3 linked regions of the Homo sapiens genome follow. The protein of the gene in region 1 purifies or fractionates together with the protein of each later gene. This does not show direct contact. Each region holds a gene or a part of one and is shown on either strand. Other genes may lie near its edges.

Evidence for each region. The genes of interacting proteins can lie anywhere in the genome.
Region 2: the proteins of GNL2 (region 1) and PPAN purify together in Homo sapiens (affinity purification with mass spectrometry; 3 studies listed by BioGRID). This does not show direct contact.
Region 3: the proteins of GNL2 (region 1) and USP36 purify together in Homo sapiens (affinity purification with mass spectrometry; 3 studies listed by BioGRID and IntAct, with this or other methods). This does not show direct contact.

The regions. Positions count from the first base shown.
Region 1 is NC_000001.11:37,571,935-37,578,971, forward strand, and holds part of GNL2 (nucleolar GTP-binding protein 2), read right to left. Parts: intron 4,623-7,037; coding exon 4,494-4,622; intron 3,766-4,493; coding exon 3,661-3,765; intron 2,890-3,660; coding exon 2,731-2,889; intron 2,523-2,730; coding exon 2,409-2,522; intron 1-2,408. UniProt on the Homo sapiens protein: GTPase that associates with pre-60S ribosomal subunits in the nucleolus and is required for their nuclear export and maturation.
Region 2 is NC_000019.10:10,109,330-10,112,517, reverse strand, and holds the end of PPAN (suppressor of SWI4 1 homolog), read right to left. Parts: intron 2,888-3,188; coding exon 2,811-2,887; intron 2,770-2,810; exon of another isoform or gene 2,678-2,769; intron 2,606-2,677; coding exon 2,498-2,605; intron 2,396-2,497; coding exon 2,272-2,395; intron 2,195-2,271; coding exon 2,116-2,194; intron 2,034-2,115; coding exon 1,904-2,033; intron 1,822-1,903; coding exon 1,652-1,821; intron 1,574-1,651; coding exon 1,353-1,573; 3' UTR 797-1,352; coding exon of another isoform or gene 778-796; 3' UTR 506-777; downstream 1-505. Other genes in the region: P2RY11 (P2Y purinoceptor 11), read right to left, coding at 778-796; PPAN-P2RY11 protein, read right to left, coding at 1,496-1,573, 1,652-1,821, 1,904-2,033, 2,116-2,194, 2,272-2,395, 2,498-2,605, 2,811-2,887. UniProt on the Homo sapiens protein: May have a role in cell growth.
Region 3 is NC_000017.11:78,809,810-78,816,846, reverse strand, and holds part of USP36 (ubiquitin carboxyl-terminal hydrolase 36), read left to right. Parts: intron 1-2,294; coding exon 2,295-2,435; intron 2,436-2,973; coding exon 2,974-3,074; intron 3,075-3,845; coding exon 3,846-3,987; intron 3,988-7,037. UniProt on the Homo sapiens protein: Deubiquitinase essential for the regulation of nucleolar structure and function. Required for cell and organism viability.

The sequences.
Region 1 (7,037 bases):
CTCCTGGCCCACGACATTCCAGCCACAGTGACCTCCTTTCAGCATCAGGACACACAGAGCATACTCCTGCCCCAGCTGCTCTGGATGTGCTGTTCCCCTTGCCTGGAACATTCTCCCTAGATACTAGCATGGCTCCTGTCTCATATTAAGGGCTCTGCTGAAGTGCCACTGCCTCAGAGGCCTTCCCCGACCACCCCAAAGTACTCCTCATCTCCCCCAAACCCCTTAGCCTGGTTTAGTTTTCCTCACAGCACGCAAGACTTCCTGACATTATATGTTTATCTGCCTACTGTCTCCCTGTGATATAAATGTCACACTTCCTGGCACAGAGCTCCTAAGACCCTTGGAATTTCCCAAGCGATGGGTATCTTTTTTATTGATTACAAGCCCCTTTCCACCACACCTGAGTTTATGCTAATGTGGTGACTCATGGTAGACCCCTAGATAGCTTCAGGATGGGGGATGCGCTGGTCACCAGAAAGACAAAGCACTTGACCACATGGTTGGTGCTTTCAGCCACTCAGAGGAGAGAAGGGAGACCAGAAATTGAGTCTATCACCAACTGCCACAGATTTCATCAGTCATGTCTATGTAATGAAACCTCCATAAAAACCCCTACATGATGGGGTTTGGAAAGCTCTGGGTTGCTGAACACATCAATGTGTGGAGAGGGCATGGAAGCTCTGTGCCTCTCCCCCATACCTTACCCTGTGCACCTCTTCCACTGGCTGTGACTGAGTTTCATCCTTTATCATAAACCGTTAATTGTAAACACAGCACTTTCCTGGGTTCTGGGAGTCCTTCTGGCAAATTATCAAACCCCAGAACCCCTGAATTTGTAGTTAGCCGGGCGTAAGTGTGGATAGCCTGAAGCTGCCATCTGAAGCAGGGGACCTAGTCCTTAACTTGTGGGGTCTGTGCTAACTCCGGGAGTTAGTGTCACAACTGAATTAAATTGTTGGGACACTCAGCTGGTATCTGAGAACTGCAGAACTGATATGGAAAAAAATTATGTATTTGGTGTCAGAAGAAACCACACACTCCCCTGCTGGAATATATGTGCAGGAGAGCAGCAGCTTGTCAGTTTCTCACCACAGCACCACCAGTACCCAGAAGAGTCTGTGGCCAACAGGAGACACTCAATATGGGATTGCTGGGTGAATGTATCAGTGAATTAATGAATGAAAGATGCAATACACATGAAGAGGGAGAGAAATTTTTGTTTGGTTGTTTGATGGTTTGGGCAGGGAGAAGGGAGAATGTCAATTAACATCAGTTTCAGGCTAACTTTCAAATGCTGCAGAATACATTCAACTGAAAATACCTAGCTGCAACTGCAACTTGGAATGGGGTCAGGTGAGAGGAAACCAGCACTGTATGGACCCAACGACACTAGCAAGCATAGATGCACAATTTGAAGCCACCATTTCAAGAGACTTGGCTGGGTTCTGAAAAAGGTCCTAGAACCAGAAAGGCAAAACGTTAACGTTGAGCCTTGTGGCGGCCCACTGCCAGGGTGAGGGAAATGGGGATAGTAGGAGAGCTTCTGGCCCCAGCCTTCAGTCTTCTTTCTCCGACTATCAGTAGTACCACTCTCCTTTCCCACTGGATCACAGGTTTTTTGAGGGCCAGGGCTGTTTTTCGTTCCTATATTCCCTGTGCCTGGCACATAGTCGATGCTAATAAATGTTTGTTAAACAAATGTTATCTTAGCAATGATTCTGTTTCGTAAGCATAAGAAAAGATACAGGTACCAGAAGATCACTTACATTTAATGAGCCCTCTTTTTCCAAGGCCCTAAAGGCTAGTATCTAAGTTTGGTCTTCTCTCATATGTCTACTTATTAGTCTCCAAATGCACCCCCTAGCAAGGCCATGGCACTGGCACTCTAGAATGAGAGAGGGTGGAGTGATCGCCATGGGCCAGCAGTGGCTCCCAACAGTGCTTCACCCTCAAAAAAATTTTTTTTTATTTTTTTGAGATGGAGTCTCCCTCTATTGCCCAGGCTAGAGTGCAGTGGCACGATCTCGGCTCACTGCAACTTGTCTCCTGGGTTCAAGCAATTCTCTTGCCTCAGCCTCCCGAGTAGCTGGGACTACAGGAGCGTGCCATCATGCTAGGTTAATTTTTGTATTTTTAGTAGAGACAGGGTTTCACCATATTGGTCAGGCTGGTCTTGAACTCCTGACCTTGTGATCCACCTACCTCGGCCTCCCAAAGTGCTGGGATTACAGGCGTGAGCCACCCATGCCCGGCCCCAAAAATATTTTTATATATTTAAAAAAATAATAAAATGAGAGACACCGCAGCTGAATGAATACACGCTCTATGAAGAGAGACAATCACAAGCTACACCAAATCTAGGTCAGGACCCATGCTCCCCAGAGGTGGGCCCACCCTGCTCTTACCTGGGGGGCCACAAGTGGCTCTGCATTGGGTGGCTTGACAAAGAAAGGAATCCGGCCCCTCTGCCAGTCATTGAGGACCATCTTACCCACAGTCTGCAAGTCGGGCTCTCCACCCTGAAAGGTCACAAAGAGATTCCCAATTAAATTCAAAGGACCAAAACCACCTACCACTTTGGGGGTATTTCAGTTGTCCCAGGGGTTCATCATCACTTAAGTGACAAGTTTCACACTGCTCATACATGCATACCAAAAAAAGGCCCATATCATATACATACATGCTTGTGACAAGTATCAGTCTAAATTCTCACAAACGCCGGGTCACCTTTAGTAACTTCCCAGTCCGGAAAGCGAGCTTCTCAAGAAAGTCCTCAGCATTCTCCCAAGAATCAATCTTGTATGTTTTGCTGATATATTCTGGCTTTGCTCGTTCAAGTACAGCACCAATGTGGTCTTCAGGACTCTTAATTTTTTCTACTTGAACCTAAATGTTAATAGGAAATCTCTCACTTACAAACTTTGTTGTGGAAGCAGTGAAGTTCCCAGTGTCCTTTGCAGCACTATTTGAAAATAGACTTCAACATCACAAAGCTCGTGGAGATTGGCAGGAGCCTGTCTCTGACGGGGCTAGACATGGTCAGCTGCAAGGAGCACTGCTGAAAGCTGACCATAGCCACGGAGCCCAGAACTCAGCTTTAATCCCCACTCACCACAAACTAACTGTGTGGCTGCCACAGTTTAAACTTGGAATGCTTCATGTTACTCACTTGCAGAAATGGTTAAAAGCCTGCCCATCCCAGGACACAAAAATAATGGAATAGTTTAAGAAAGGAGAGGAGGAATGTGTACAGGATGTATAGCCAGAAGCATGGTCAAGGTTAAGTGGAACCATTTACAGTTTTTCAGTCGTATTCAGAAACAAGTGAGGAAATGACTGGGTTCCAAAATGACTCAACCCATAAACCCACGAAGACGAATTATCGCTAAGCATAAACAGGCCCTGCTTCCCTTTGGATCCTGTGTGTAAACTACAAACTCTTTTGTGGGATGATATTGACCAGATATGCCCATGGTTCCACTAATTCCTCAAACAGCTTATGCTGAGAGGCTGCTGTTCAGCATCATGTTCCTAAAGTTTGGTCAGACAGGCTGACCCCAAACTGCCTTCTTAATAAGTAAAAAGGAAAGGTATCCAGGGTTCCCTATAGAACACTCCCCCGCAAACACAAACAGCCTATCAGGGCCAAATACTCACAACTCCTTTTAGCACAATGTCTGTCTCGGAGTCCTCAGAGGGGTAAACCACACCTGGACAGTCAATCAGGAATATCCGACGCATCAAAGTAATATACTGCCAGACCTGAAGTCAGAAAAAAGTCAGAGATGTCCTGTATCAAACACTAAGAGTCTAATTTCACAAACCCCTGATGCTCATGTATGAAGCTGGAAAGGAGGAAGGGGTGAGTCAAAGAAAAGCAACGCGCTAAGTAATTAAGCTACTAACTCTCTCATCTGTGCCGTGCACAAGATACTTCCACTAAGTGTAAACTATAGTTTCCATCAGCTAAGAGTCTAAAAACAACACAGAGACAGGATTTCCATCTCGTATTGTGCAATTATACCCGGTGAACCTTTCCTGAGTTTTAGAAGTACTCTTGAGAGCTTAGTACTGCTTGACCTCATTGCCTTTAAGCAAAACCATGCTGTTCCCCACTATGTGTTCTAGGATATGACCCCCAACTTTCAGAACCTACCTTAAGTTTGAGGCTTCTTAACCCAGGCATCAAATATTCTTGGGTTAGTTTTGTTTATCAAAATAAAAGGCTGGAGTGATAATTTAAAACAGATCTAAATATGAATCACATTAACTAACACAGGCCAAAGCCACACGGGGGCATATAAAATACTCTCAGTCTTATCAAAGTGGGCAGAAACAACTCTGATACGTTCCAAACTATTATATGGTGAGCTAAACTCCTAGTGGTGGTCTGCATTCAAGAGAAGCAGAGAGAAATCAACAAGTCCTAAACAATCACTCTCTATGAAAAGAAAATATGCAAAAGTAAGGTCACCCTGCGCCCAACGTACCTTTGTTTCACCTGCAATGGGAGCCACGTTGCAAACTTTCTTAGAACGCAATGTATTTATCACAGAGCTCTTGCCAACATTTGGATAGCCAATGAACCCAACACTGATCTGTTTCTTGTCAGTGTGCAACTGTTCAAAGAGAGAATACACAGCACATACATGCAGTCATATATATCCCTTTGGACAAGTAGGTTGTATTACTTTGTTAATATCAAGAATACAGTGCAAAACTGTTGATACAACTTGATCTGAAGCCTAGATACACACCACCTACATAATCTGAGTAAGCTGGATACATATGCTTATTAATAAATCAGAGGTGAGTCATTTCCTCAGTCATGCAAGTGAAATTATCCTTGTATGTGTTAAGGTTAAAAGTATGTAGGTCAAGAAATAAAAGAAGGCTCGGCACAGTGGCTCACGCCTGTAATCCCAGCACTTTGGGAGGCCAAGGAGAGCGGATCACCTGAGGTCAGGGGTTCGAGACCAGCCTGGCCAACATGATGAAACCCTGTCTCTACTAAAAATACAAAAATTAGCCAGGCATGGTGGCGCAAGCCTGTAATCCCAGCTACTTGGGAGGCTGAGGCAGGAGAATCGCTTGAACCTGGGAGGCCGAAGTTGCAGGGAACCAAGATCATGCACTGCACTATAGCCTGGGTGACAGAGACTCCAGTCTCAAAAAAAAAAAAAAGAAACAAAAGAAGAAAAACAGCTTGTTAGTCACTGATTTAGAACAATGCCATCTATTGATAAAACATCTTCGGGAAAAAGAATATGAACAGGTTCATCAACTGGACAATCCCACAACTCACCCCCCCTTTTCTTTGCATAATACATCTGCATTTCCACTGCCAAAAATAAATAACAAAAGAAAAAAAGCAACCTTGAAAGTTACGACTACAGGGTGAAAGTCTCAAAAAGGCAGAGCTTGCTATCAAGAAGAGGGCCTACAAACGAATGGAGGCTTCCGATTAAAGATGGTGGACTGAACATACATGCTAACCCCGTTCCCTCACCAACTCCACTAGAATGACAGCAGTGGACATTAACACTTTTAAACCAATAGAACCAAACATACTGAACCAGAGAATGAGATGGAGATGAGACAACAAAAACTAAAGTGATGTTAAACAAAATACTAGATGCTTAAAAGTAGTATCAAACTTGGCCCATTACAAAATATAAAAGCTAAGTGGTTGTAAAGATAGAAAAACTAAAGATCCAGCAATAATAATGACAATGAATCACAGAGATTCATTGGGAATCACTGGGAATTGGTGGTAGATCCCTCTTAAGATAGGGCTGAAAACAAGGACCAGCAGATAGTCTGCCAAAGCAGCCACACTTCTCCATCCCCTCCCTCATTCAGGGTGGGCACACAACTTCTCTACTCTCAAAGAAATCCAGGGCCTATGAAAGTGGCTTTTGGATTTTTTGAAATGTCACATGTTTGAAAGTATCTGTAATCTTCAGACTTGAAAGGGATCCTGGATTTAGAGATAATAACAGTATTCCCAGAATGATTAATTGAAAATCTAAGTATTCAATAGTGAGATGCCCAGTCTACTATTCCCACTGAGTTCCCAGAACTCTAGCAGCCAGGATTCTATACCCCTAGAGCTAGAGATTGAAAGATTCTCTTCTGGGGAAACTCACAAGCCCAAGAAAAAAGACCTACAGACACTGGTATCTACAGGATGTCCTCCCAACAAAAAATTTGGGTCCCAGTCAGGCACAGTGGCTCATGCCTGTAATCCCAGAACTCTGGGAGGCTGAGGTGGGCAGATCACTTGAGGTCAGGAGTTTGAGACCAGCTTGGCCAACATGGTGAAACCCCAACTCTACTCAAAATACAAAAATTAACCAGGTCTGGTGGTGCTTGCCTGTACTCCCAGCTACTTGGGAGGCTGAAGCAGGAGAATTGCTTGAACCCAGGAGGCGGAGATTGCAGTGAGCCTAAATCAGGCCACTCCACTCCAACCTGGGCAATAGAGCAAGACTCTGTCTCAAAAAAAAAAAAAAAATTAAATTAAATTAGAGTCCCTATTTAATCACCTTACAATGAAGTCTATCAGTCAACAAGGCCACTCCATGGAGAAAAAAAAGAACCTATCAGCTTTTTAATGCCTTACTCTTTTTTTTTTTGAAACAGGGTCTTCCCTTGTCAACCAGGCTGAAGTACAGCGACACAATCACAGCTCTCTGCGGCCTCTGTCTCCTGGGCTCAAGCAATCCTCCTGCCTCAGCCTCCTGGGTAGCTGGAACCATAAGTGTGCACCACTATGCCTTGCTAATTTTTTTCTATCTTTTGTAGAGATGGAGTTTTGCCATATTGCCCAGGCTCGTCTAGAACTCCTGAGCTCAAGCGATCTGCCTGCCTCATCCTCCCAAAGTGGTGGGATTATAGGCATGAGCCACTCTACCTGGCCTAATGCCTTACTCTTAAATATAAATAGAGAACCAAGAATAAACATTTAAGTTGACTCTACTTGCGGGTCGAGGCTGCAGTGAGCCATGATCGCACCACTGCACTTCAGCCTG
Region 2 (3,188 bases), on another chromosome or scaffold:
GCGCCACCTGATGACGGTGAGAAAAATCTCCCTCCTTCGGGAGGATGGGGGGGCCTGCTTACCCATTACTGGTGCCAGTGCTCACCACAGTGCCCAGGGCACAGCAGCACAGGGGCACTCACTCCTTGTGCACCCCACCCCTGCCTCTGCAGGCTGGGGACAGGCTTCTCCGGAGGCGCCTCCCTGCTCCCAACGCCAGCCTGCTTAAGGAGGAAGTGTCGTCTAGACGTGGCTTTTTTTTGGAGACAGGATTTCACTGTCACCGAGGCTGAGGTGCAGTGGTGCAATCACAGCTCAGTGCAGTCTCGACCTCCTGGGGTCAAGTGATCCCCCTGCCTCAGCCTCCCGAGTAGCTGGAATCACAGGCTCGCATCACCACACCCAGCCTTGACCTAGGCTTTTTTTTTTTGAGATGGAGTTTCGCTCATTGCCCAAGCTGGAGTGCAATGGTGCAATCTCGGCTCATGGCAACCTCCGCCTCCCGGGTTTAAGTGATTCTCTTGTCTCAGCCTCCCGAGTAGCTGGGATTACAGGCATGTGCCACCAGGCCCAGCTAATTTTTTTATTTTTAGTAGAGACGGGGTTTCTCCTTGTTGGTCAGGGTGGTCTCGAACCCCTGACCTCGTGTTCCACCCCCCTCGACCTCCCAAAGTGCTGGGATTACAGGCGTGAGCCACCGTGCCCAGCCCCAGACCTAGGTGTTTTACCAATACCCACTACCCCCACCTCCTGACAATCTGCAGACCCCCAGAGACAGCCAACATGCCTTCTCCTTACCCGAGACGTTGGCTGCCATGCTCCCGTGCCGATCCTCAGCCTGTGTCTGCTACCCAGTTCCCCAGCCCCTCCCCCAGTCACCAGTGGCTTAGTGGGCCCTGCCCCAGCCCCATCCCCAGTTACTGGCCCAGCCAGCAGAGCAGGCCAGCGTGCCTTTCCACCCACGTTTCCTTCCTCATTGTGCCACAACCCTCCTGAGGTTCAAGCTCATCTGCTGAAAGTGTGACCTGTCTGCTTGCACGGCTCTTTGGTGGGACTGGGGGGAGGGGCCACTCATGGCTGCTGCTGCCACCAATGAAACCAACCCCGTGCAGGGTAGGGGAGAGACCCAGCTTCCAGGAAGAAACCAGGTGGGAGGGACTCTCGGGTGTGGCCGGCCCAGGACTCTCTGGGTTGCTTTGTATGGCTCCAGAATCCCCCATCCCAAACGCTGACGTGGACCCCTGGCCAATTCAGTTCTTTACTGGAGTGGAAGGGCTGGGGACACAACTCCTTTATGAAAGGAAACCGAGGGCCACATCTCGGGCCCCAATCTGGGGCGTTCAATCCAGCCGCTGCTCCGGTGCGGCTTGGGCTCAGGCCACTCTCTTCCCTGGGCGGCCCCGGCCCCGGCCTCGCCCACCATCCCGGGAAGCCCCTCTGGGCCCCCGCCTGGCCTGGGCTCCCTGGGACTTGTCCTTGGTCTTGGGAAACTTCTGGTCACAAAGGCGACCCCTGCCTCGATCCATTTCCCACCGCTTCCGCTTCCGCCCTGGAGACTTGGCAAGCCGTTTCTGCTTGGCCTCGGGGAACAGGTCTGTGGGGAGAGACAGTGTCAGGGCCCCCAGAGACAAGGACAGGCTCTGGGTGCCCTGCTGCAGACCCCACTCCATACCCTCACTGGGCGCCTCGCCCACCGCCTGGCAGAAATACTCGATGTCATCATCTTCCTGTTCATCATCGTCCTCACCCAACTCCAGGCTCGCCGTCCTTGAAGGGATCCCAGAGGCCTCTTCATCACTACCCCCGACCCGTGCCTTCTTCATGCCCTCCAGGCTCTTCTTTCTGGAGGAGGGCGTGGGGGTCAACATAGCCGCCCATCCCAGGGACCCCCCCTTGGCCCTGCCCTTCCCAGCTCTGCCTGGACCTGTGGGCCTCCCGCTGCTCCTGCTTGCGCTGCACATTCTGGGCCTGCTGGGCCTGCCTCTGCGCCTTCAGCCGCAGCTTCTTCTCCTTGGCTTCCAGGATGGCCTGCAGCTCCTCCTCCGTCTTGCTCACTGAGCCAAGAGACGCGGGTCACCAAGATCCGGGTGCAGCTCCACACCCATGACCCCCCACCCCCGGCGGCCCCGGCCTCACCAAAACTGTGGAACATCACTTTGCCCTCCCCGACGCCCTCCTGGACCTTGATGAGCTGCAGTGTCATCCGCGGGCCGATCTGAGGGGACGAGGAAGAAGCGTCAGCCCACCGTTGGGACTGGTGGAGCCCGGGGGTCCCCCTGCCCTGGGCCTCACCTCGGTGAGCCGCACTGCACTCTGCTGGGCCCGCATGTTGCCACGGCCAGCGACAGCCTGAGGCAGCTCTGTGATGTTGTGGTCGCCGTCAGGCTCTGCCTCGCTCTCCGACAGCCCCGCGCCCCTGTGTGTAGGACATAACAGGGCTCAGTGGGGGAGCTCAGGCTCCCGGTCCTGTTCTGGGGTCCCCGGGCCGCAGTGGCCTCCCGCCCTATGCCCTCCTCACGTGGCCAGCAGCTCGCTGATGTCCTGCAGGCGGCTCATGTTGGGGAACTTCTCCTGGAGCAGCTTCTTCATCCCGCGACTCGCGCCCACAGGAACAACTTTGATGCTACTGCAGGAACATGAGTGGACGGCAAGGGGGTGGTCAGGGGGCACGTGATGGGGCTGGCGGTGCCCATCTCACCCTTCCCACAGTGCGTCAGGGCGTTTACTTTGGACAGAGCAATCACAGCGTCTCAGCAGAAGTGCTGTCATCAGCCGCATGTGGAGGCCCCCACCCGGCACCCCCTCGTCTCCCATCCTGCTGGGACACTCACTAGTGGCGGAAGTCCAGCTCCTGGGAGTCGGGGTTGTAGTCGATGAGGAGGCAGCGCTTGATGGTGTTCAGGTTCACCTGGAAGGGGAGGAAGAGAGCATAGTCCAGTAGACTCATGGCAAAGTTTGGGGAAGTGGGGGCTTTGGGGGATACACACACTGTTCGTGGACTGTGGCACTGGCTAGAAATGCTGCTTCCAGCTCGCACCTGCAGTTTTAGCTACTCCAGAGGCTGAAGTGGTGGGACTGCCTGAGCCCAGGAGTTCAAAACCAGCCTGGGCAACACGGCGAGTCTCCATGTCTACAAAAAGTAGATGGAAAAATGAGTTGGATGTGGTGGTGCACGCCTGTAGTCTCAGCTACTCGGGAAGCGGAGGCTG
Region 3 (7,037 bases), on another chromosome or scaffold:
TCTTTGATCTATATACTGAAGATCTATGCATTTCAACAAATCCCACAACTCAGTTTAAAAAAATGATTTAGGCTGGGCACAATGGCTCACAACTCTAATGTCAGCACTTAGGGAGGCTGAGGTGGGAGGATTGCTTGAGACTGGGAGTTTAAGACCAGCTTGGGCAACATAGTGAGACCCTGTCTCTACAAAAAAATTTTGGTTTTTTTGTTTTTTTTTTTGAGACGGAGTCTTACTCTGTCACCCAGGCTAGAGTGCAGTGGCACCATCTCAGCTCACTGCAATATCTGCCTCCCAAGTTCAAGCGATTCTCCTGCCTCAGCCTCCCAAGTAGCTGGGACCACAAATGTGTGCCACCATGCTTGGCTAAATTTTGTATTTTTAGTAGAGACGGGGTTCCACCATGTTGGCCAGGCTGGTCTTGAACTCCTGACCTCAAGTGATCCACCCACCTCGGCCTCCCAAAGTGTTGGGATTATAGGTGTGAGCCATCATGCCCGGCCTAAAAAATTTTTATTAATTGGCCAGTCATGGTGGCGCGTGCCTATAGTCCCAGCTACTTGGGAGGTAGAGATAGGAGGATTGCTTGAGTCCAGGAGTTTGAAGTTACAGTGAGCTATGAATGTACCACTGCACTCTAGCCTGGGTGACAGAGCGAGACTGTGTTTCTTAAAAAAAAAAAAAAAAATTATGCGTATGTTTTTCGGAGTTCCTAAACACACGTCTGTATATGACCCAGAATAATGGCAATCCTGTCATGTGGGCTCTGTGCTGTCCTGGTGCACTCAGCCTACAGCTGCCATGCCAGGCACTATTACTGCTAAGAATATATGTGTGTGCATGTATGTATATATGTGTGTGCACGTATTATATGTGTGTGTATGTATATGTGTGTGCATGCATGTGTGTATATGTGTGTGTATGTGTGCGTATGCATGTGTGCGTGCATGTATGTGTTGTGCATGTATGTATATGCGTACATGTGTATGCATGCATATGTGTGTGTGTATGTATATATGTGTGCATGTGTGTATACGATGTATGTATGCATGTATGTATATATGTGTGCATGTATTTTATGCGTGCATGTATGCATATATGTATGCATGTTATGTATATGTGTGCGTGTATTTTTTTCTATGAAAAATTGGTCAGTTTTGGGAAGACATTTTAGCATGACCTTTCTTCTGATCCAGTTGATTAAAAGTCTTACTTGCGGTAGCAGTTGGCTATATTAATTCAGCACTTTTATTTCTGAAGATCTAAAACCCAGCATTCTCTCCCTTTTCTCCCACCAACAATGTTCCTGTAAAGTGGAGGGAAAGAAAATGAGTGACCCTTCTCATTTGATCGTTAGGAACCAGGTGGTGAGAGAACTAATGGAGATGCTTGACAAAGACAAGAACAGATCCTGCATTGCTTGATGGGACAATAAAGTTTCCCATAGGCTGGCTGGAGAAGACTCACTTCTCAGCATCTTGGTGTTTTTTCTTTGTTTGTTTGTTTTGATTGTTTTGAGATGGAGTCTCGCTCTGTTGCGAGGCTGGAGTGCAGTGGTATGATCTCGGCTCACTGTAACCTCCACCTCCTGGTTTCAAGCGATTCTCCTGCCTCAGCCTCCTGAGTAGCTGGAACTACAGGCACGTGCCACCACGCCTGGCTAATTTTTGTATTTTTAGTAGAGACAAGGTTTCGCCATCTTGGCCACGATGGTCTCAATCTCTTGACCTTGTGATCTACCCGCCTCGGCCTCCCAAAGTGCTGGGATTACAGGCGTGAGCCACCGCACCTGGCCAGCATCTTGGTTTTTAATCATTGCCTGGGGGAGCTCCTGCACAGCGTTGCTGCACACCCATTCGCCCCAAATTGTCTTTTTCTTGTTTGTGGCGGGGCAGTTTTGAGACAGTCTCGCTCTGTCGCCCAGGCTGAGTGCAGTGGCTCGATCTCGGCTCACTGCAACCTCTGCCTCGCGGGTTCAAGTGATTCTTGTTCCTCAGCCTCCTGAGTAGCTGGGATTACAGGCAGTGCACCACCATGCCCAGCTAATTTTTTGTATTTTTATTAGAAGTGGGGTTTCGCTATATTGGTCAGGCTGATCTCGAACTCCTCGAGGTGATCCCCCTGCCTCAGCCTCCCAAAGTGCTGGGATTACAGGCGTGAGCCACTGTGCCCGGCCCCCAAATTGTTAAAGACCAGACAAGCTGGGCATTTTGTGTGGTTGTGGATGGAAAGGGCAAATTGATCTTTACTCTCAAAGTGAATTTTATTTGTCTTTTCCTTGATTTTTCAAACAGGATGTAGGCTATCCGGAATTCCTCAACATACGTCCGTATATGTCCCAGAATAATGGTGATCCTGTCATGTATGGACTCTATGCTGTCCTGGTGCACTCGGGCTACAGCTGCCATGCCGGGCACTATTACTGCTACGTGAAGGTGAGAGGCTTGTGTCAGTGCAGCTGCCTCCTGGGACAGGTTTCAGCACCCATGCACATCCAGATGCGGCCTCTGTAGAGCACTTACTTTGTGAAAAGTGTGATGTTTTGTGGTTGTATTCAAGTCCTCGTTGTTGCCTCTCTGCGTGGAGTGAAAAGATGCCCTTTACAGAAGTGTTGCACCAGAATCTAGTGTTCTCAGACTTGCAGGGAGACACGGAAGAGGCAGCCGCTTCTGGTGCCATCCTTAGAACCCTGGCAAAATCGGCCATGGTGATGACACTGCCTGAATGTCCTTTAGAAGGGACAGTTCCTATCTGTTGGGGCACTAGGAAGGAACTGGGACGCAGAGCACACTTTGGGGTCACATTCCGAGTTATGAAAATATTACACGTTTTAATAGAAGTTGTTACCTGTTGATTATTAATAGTGTTTGGAAATGTAGCAACTAACAGATTTTTTATTCCCTTTTTAAAAAGTGAGGATAATGGGATGCTTGTTGATTGTTTTGTTTTCTGCAACATCCTTGGCTGCTTCAGGCAAGCAATGGACAGTGGTACCAGATGAATGATTCCTTGGTCCATTCCAGCAACGTCAAGGTGGTTCTGAACCAGCAGGCCTACGTGCTGTTCTATCTGCGGTAATAAACTCACGCCCTCCCCAGATGAGCTCACTCCCTCTGCTCTTTTCTTATACCGGTGGGCCTCCCTAACCTTTTTTTGTTTGAAGGTAATTGGGAATTCCACTGGAGGGATTTGTCATGTGTCATAGAGACCGTCCACAGGGAAGGACACTTTTTAGTAAAGCCAGAGCCTTGGGAAGGTCAGGACAGGATCCCATCTGCCCTCACATTGATGCTGTTTTGAATGTAAACAGGAAAGTCACCATTTATAGTATTGCCCCAAATTAGAGGTACTGCTCCCTGGATGGTAGCCAGCCAATGCCCCTTCCCGTGTGGGGAAGCTGCCCCTGTAGGGATATGCTGGGAAGGACGTGTTTGTGGGGGTGCTGCTGCAGAGCTTCTCTGGAGGGGCCTTCTCCTGGAGCTGGCTGTCACTGACCTGGAGGCTGGAGACCGTGGCAGCTGAGGCATTTTTGCTGCTTTGTACGTCTCTGCAGAGTGTGGCTGAGGTGTTTGAGGTTCTTGCTTTCTGGTGCATTGAACTCTGATCTTGGAGGAATTCTGACTCTAATTTGCCCTTGCTCTGCTTATATTCAGCAGATACTTGGGGCTGATCTCTCAGCCTCACTGTGGTTGAAAGGCAAAGGGAGATTCCAGAGAAGTGGTTAGGACTGGCAGGGTTTCCCCAGGCCGTGTTTCTGCCTTTGCCCCGCCTTAACTTATTCTAATTCTCTCCGTTTCTGTAATGCCTAGTAAGAGAATTCCCTACTTGTTTTCTTCCTTTGACAGAATTCCAGGCTCTAAGAAAAGTCCCGAGGGCCTCATCTCCAGGACAGGCTCCTCCTCCCTTCCCGGCCGCCCGAGTGTGATTCCAGATCACTCCAAGAAGAACATCGGCAATGGGATTATTTCCTCCCCACTGACTGGAAAGGTATTTGTGAGAATGATGGAGGCCAAAGTGGCTGGTCTTGGTGCTCCTCACAGACCTCCTCACACTTGGGAAGTTGGCCACAGTGGAAGGAATTTGCAGGCAGTTTGCACTATTCTAGTTGATGTTATTTCTTTTCTTTTCTTTTTTTTTTTTTTTTTTTTTCGAGACAGAGTCTCGCTCTGTCATCCAGGCTGGGGTGCAGTGGTGCGATCTCCAATCTCGGCTCACTGCAAGCTCTGCCTCCCGGGTTCCCGCCATTCTCCTGCCTCAGCCTCCCTAGTAGCTGGGATTATAGGTGCCCGAACCACGCCCGGCTAATTTTTTTTGTATTTTTAGTAGAGACGGGGTTTCACCGTGTTAGCCAGGATGCTTTCGATCTCCTGACCTCAGGATCTGCCCGCCTCGGCCTCCCAAAGTGCTGGGATTACAGGCATGAGCCACCGCGCCCGGCCAATGTTATTTCTTAAACTGGTCATCAGCTGACATTGGCTATAGAGAAAGAGGAGACATGAATGAGAAAATTCTGACCCAACAAATTAGAATTGTCATTCACAGATCTGTTCTACTCATGAGACCAGCACCACTTACAGGTGTCGTGACAGGTGTGCCAAGCAAACTTTCTGTGTGCACTCCTTTTATTTCCTTTATAATGCCAAGCAAACTTTTTTTTTTGGAGACAGGGTCTCACTCTGTTACCCAGACTGGAGTACAGTGGCACAATCATGGTTCAGGGCAGGCTTGAGCTCCTGGATTCAAGCCACCCTCCTGCCCCAGCATCCCTAGTATTCGGGACTATCAGTGCACTACCACACCCAGCTAATTTTTAAATTTTGTGTAGAGACAGGGTCTCACTATGTTGCCCTGGCTGGTCTTAAGCTCCTCAGCCCAAGCAATTCTCCTGTCTTGGCCTCTCAGAGTGCCAGGATTACAGGCACCAAGCAAACTCTTAACCGTAAGCGTGTAGGAAAAAATATCCTTTTTTTTTTTTCTTTGAGACGGAGTCTCATTCTGTCGCCCAGGCTGGAGTGCAGTGGCGCAACCTTGGCTCGCTGCAACCTCCACCTCCCAGGTTCAAGCGATTCTCCTGCCTCAGCCTCCCGAGTAGCTGGGACTACAGGCGTGTGCCACCATGCATGGCTAATTTTTTTATTTTTAGTGGAGACGGGGTTTCACTTTATTAGCCAGGATGGTCTCTATCTGCTGACCTCCTGATCCACCCGCCTCAGCCTCCCAAAGTGCTGGGATTACAGACGTGAGCCACTGTGCCCGGCCTGTTCTCACATTTAACGGGGAAAATGTGAGTAGTTTGTACCAATGTTAATTTCCTGATTTGGGTAATTCTGCTGTGGTTATGTAAGAGAGTGTCTTTGTTCTTTGGAAATACACATGGACATATTTTGGGGTAAAAGAACATCATGTCTGCAATTTACTCAAATGGATCAGAAATAGAAATATGTGTATATGCATACGTACATAGTCATACATATATACACACGTACATATACATACAGAGAGAGGATGATAAAGGTTATGTGGTTACAGGTTAACCATTAGGAACTACCCTCTAAGTTACCTTTGTGTGTATTTGAAATTTTCTGCTAGAACTGTTAAGAATTCAGTTTCACTAAGTGGATTCATGAGCAGTTTCCTCATTAGAACACAGTGATCATTTGAAGTGGGGTGGACCCTCTTGATGACTGTTTCTTTTTTTTTTTTTTTTTTTTTTTTTGAGACAGAGTCTCGCTCTGTCACTGAGGCTGGAGTGCAGTGGCGCCATCTCAGCTCACTGCAGCCTCTGCCACTATGCAGCCTCCGCCTCTTGGGTTCAAGCGATTCTCCTGCCTCTGCCTCCTGAGTAGCTGTAATTACAGGTGCCCGCCAGCACTCCCGGCTAATTTTTGTAGTTTTAGTAGAGATGGGGTTTCACCATGTTGGCCAGGCTGGTCTGGAACTCCTGACCTCAAGTGATTCGCTCAGCTTGACCTCCCAGAGTCCTGGGATACAGGCATGAGCCACCGTGCCCGGCCTGGATGACTGTTTTTGATGGATCGTCTTCCTCTCCCTTTAGAATGAAGAGTTGAACCCCACACACAGGCAGTCAGGGCCTTTCACAGTCTGCAGGGGTTTTGGTCATTTACGTACATCTGTATTTCTCTTCACATTAAAGAAAATAGAAGCTGAAATTAGAAGCATTAGAATTGAAGTGGCAGTAAAATACATGATATAATTGCAAAGTTGGTGGTCACTGTAGCCCAGACTAGGAAGTTAGGAAGCAGCCTGGGCCTGGGACTGTGACTCATGTCTGTAATTCCAACACTTTGGGAAGCCGATGTGGGAAGATCAGTGGATCCCAGGAGTTCGAGACCAACCTGGGCAAAACCCTGTCTCTACTAAAAATGCAAAAGCTAGCCAGGTTTAATGGCACGTGCCTGTATTCCCAGCTACTCAGGAGGCTGAGGTGGGAGGATCACTTGAGCCAGGGAGATTAAGGCTGGAGTGAGTCATGATCATACCACTCCACACCAGCCTGGGCAACAGAGCAAGACCCTGTCTCAAAACAAATTTAAAAAGTAGCCTGGGCAACATAGATCCCATCAGCACAGAGAATATTCAGTAAGCTGTTGGGGGAGGATCACTTGAACCCGGGAGGTTGAGGCTGTATGCAGTGAGCCATGATCACGCTGGTGAATTCCAGGCAAGGTGACAGAGTGAGACCTTGTCTACAAAAAAAAGAAGAGGGGGGCCGGGCACTTTGGGAGGCTGAGGTGGGTGGACCATTTGAGGTCAGGAGTTTGAGACCAGCTTGCCAATATGGTGAGACCCTGTCTCTACTAAAAATACAAAAGTTAGCTGGGCATGGTGGCGTGCGCCTGTAATCCCAGCTATTCGAGAGGCCGAGGTAGGAGAATCGCTTGAACCCGGGAGGTGGAGGTTGCAGTGAGCTGAGATTGTGCCACTGCACTCCAGCCTGGGTGACAGAGCGGGACTCCATCTCAAAAAAAGGAAGCAGCCTGGGCAACATAGAAAGACCCCCATCTCCAAAACCCCAT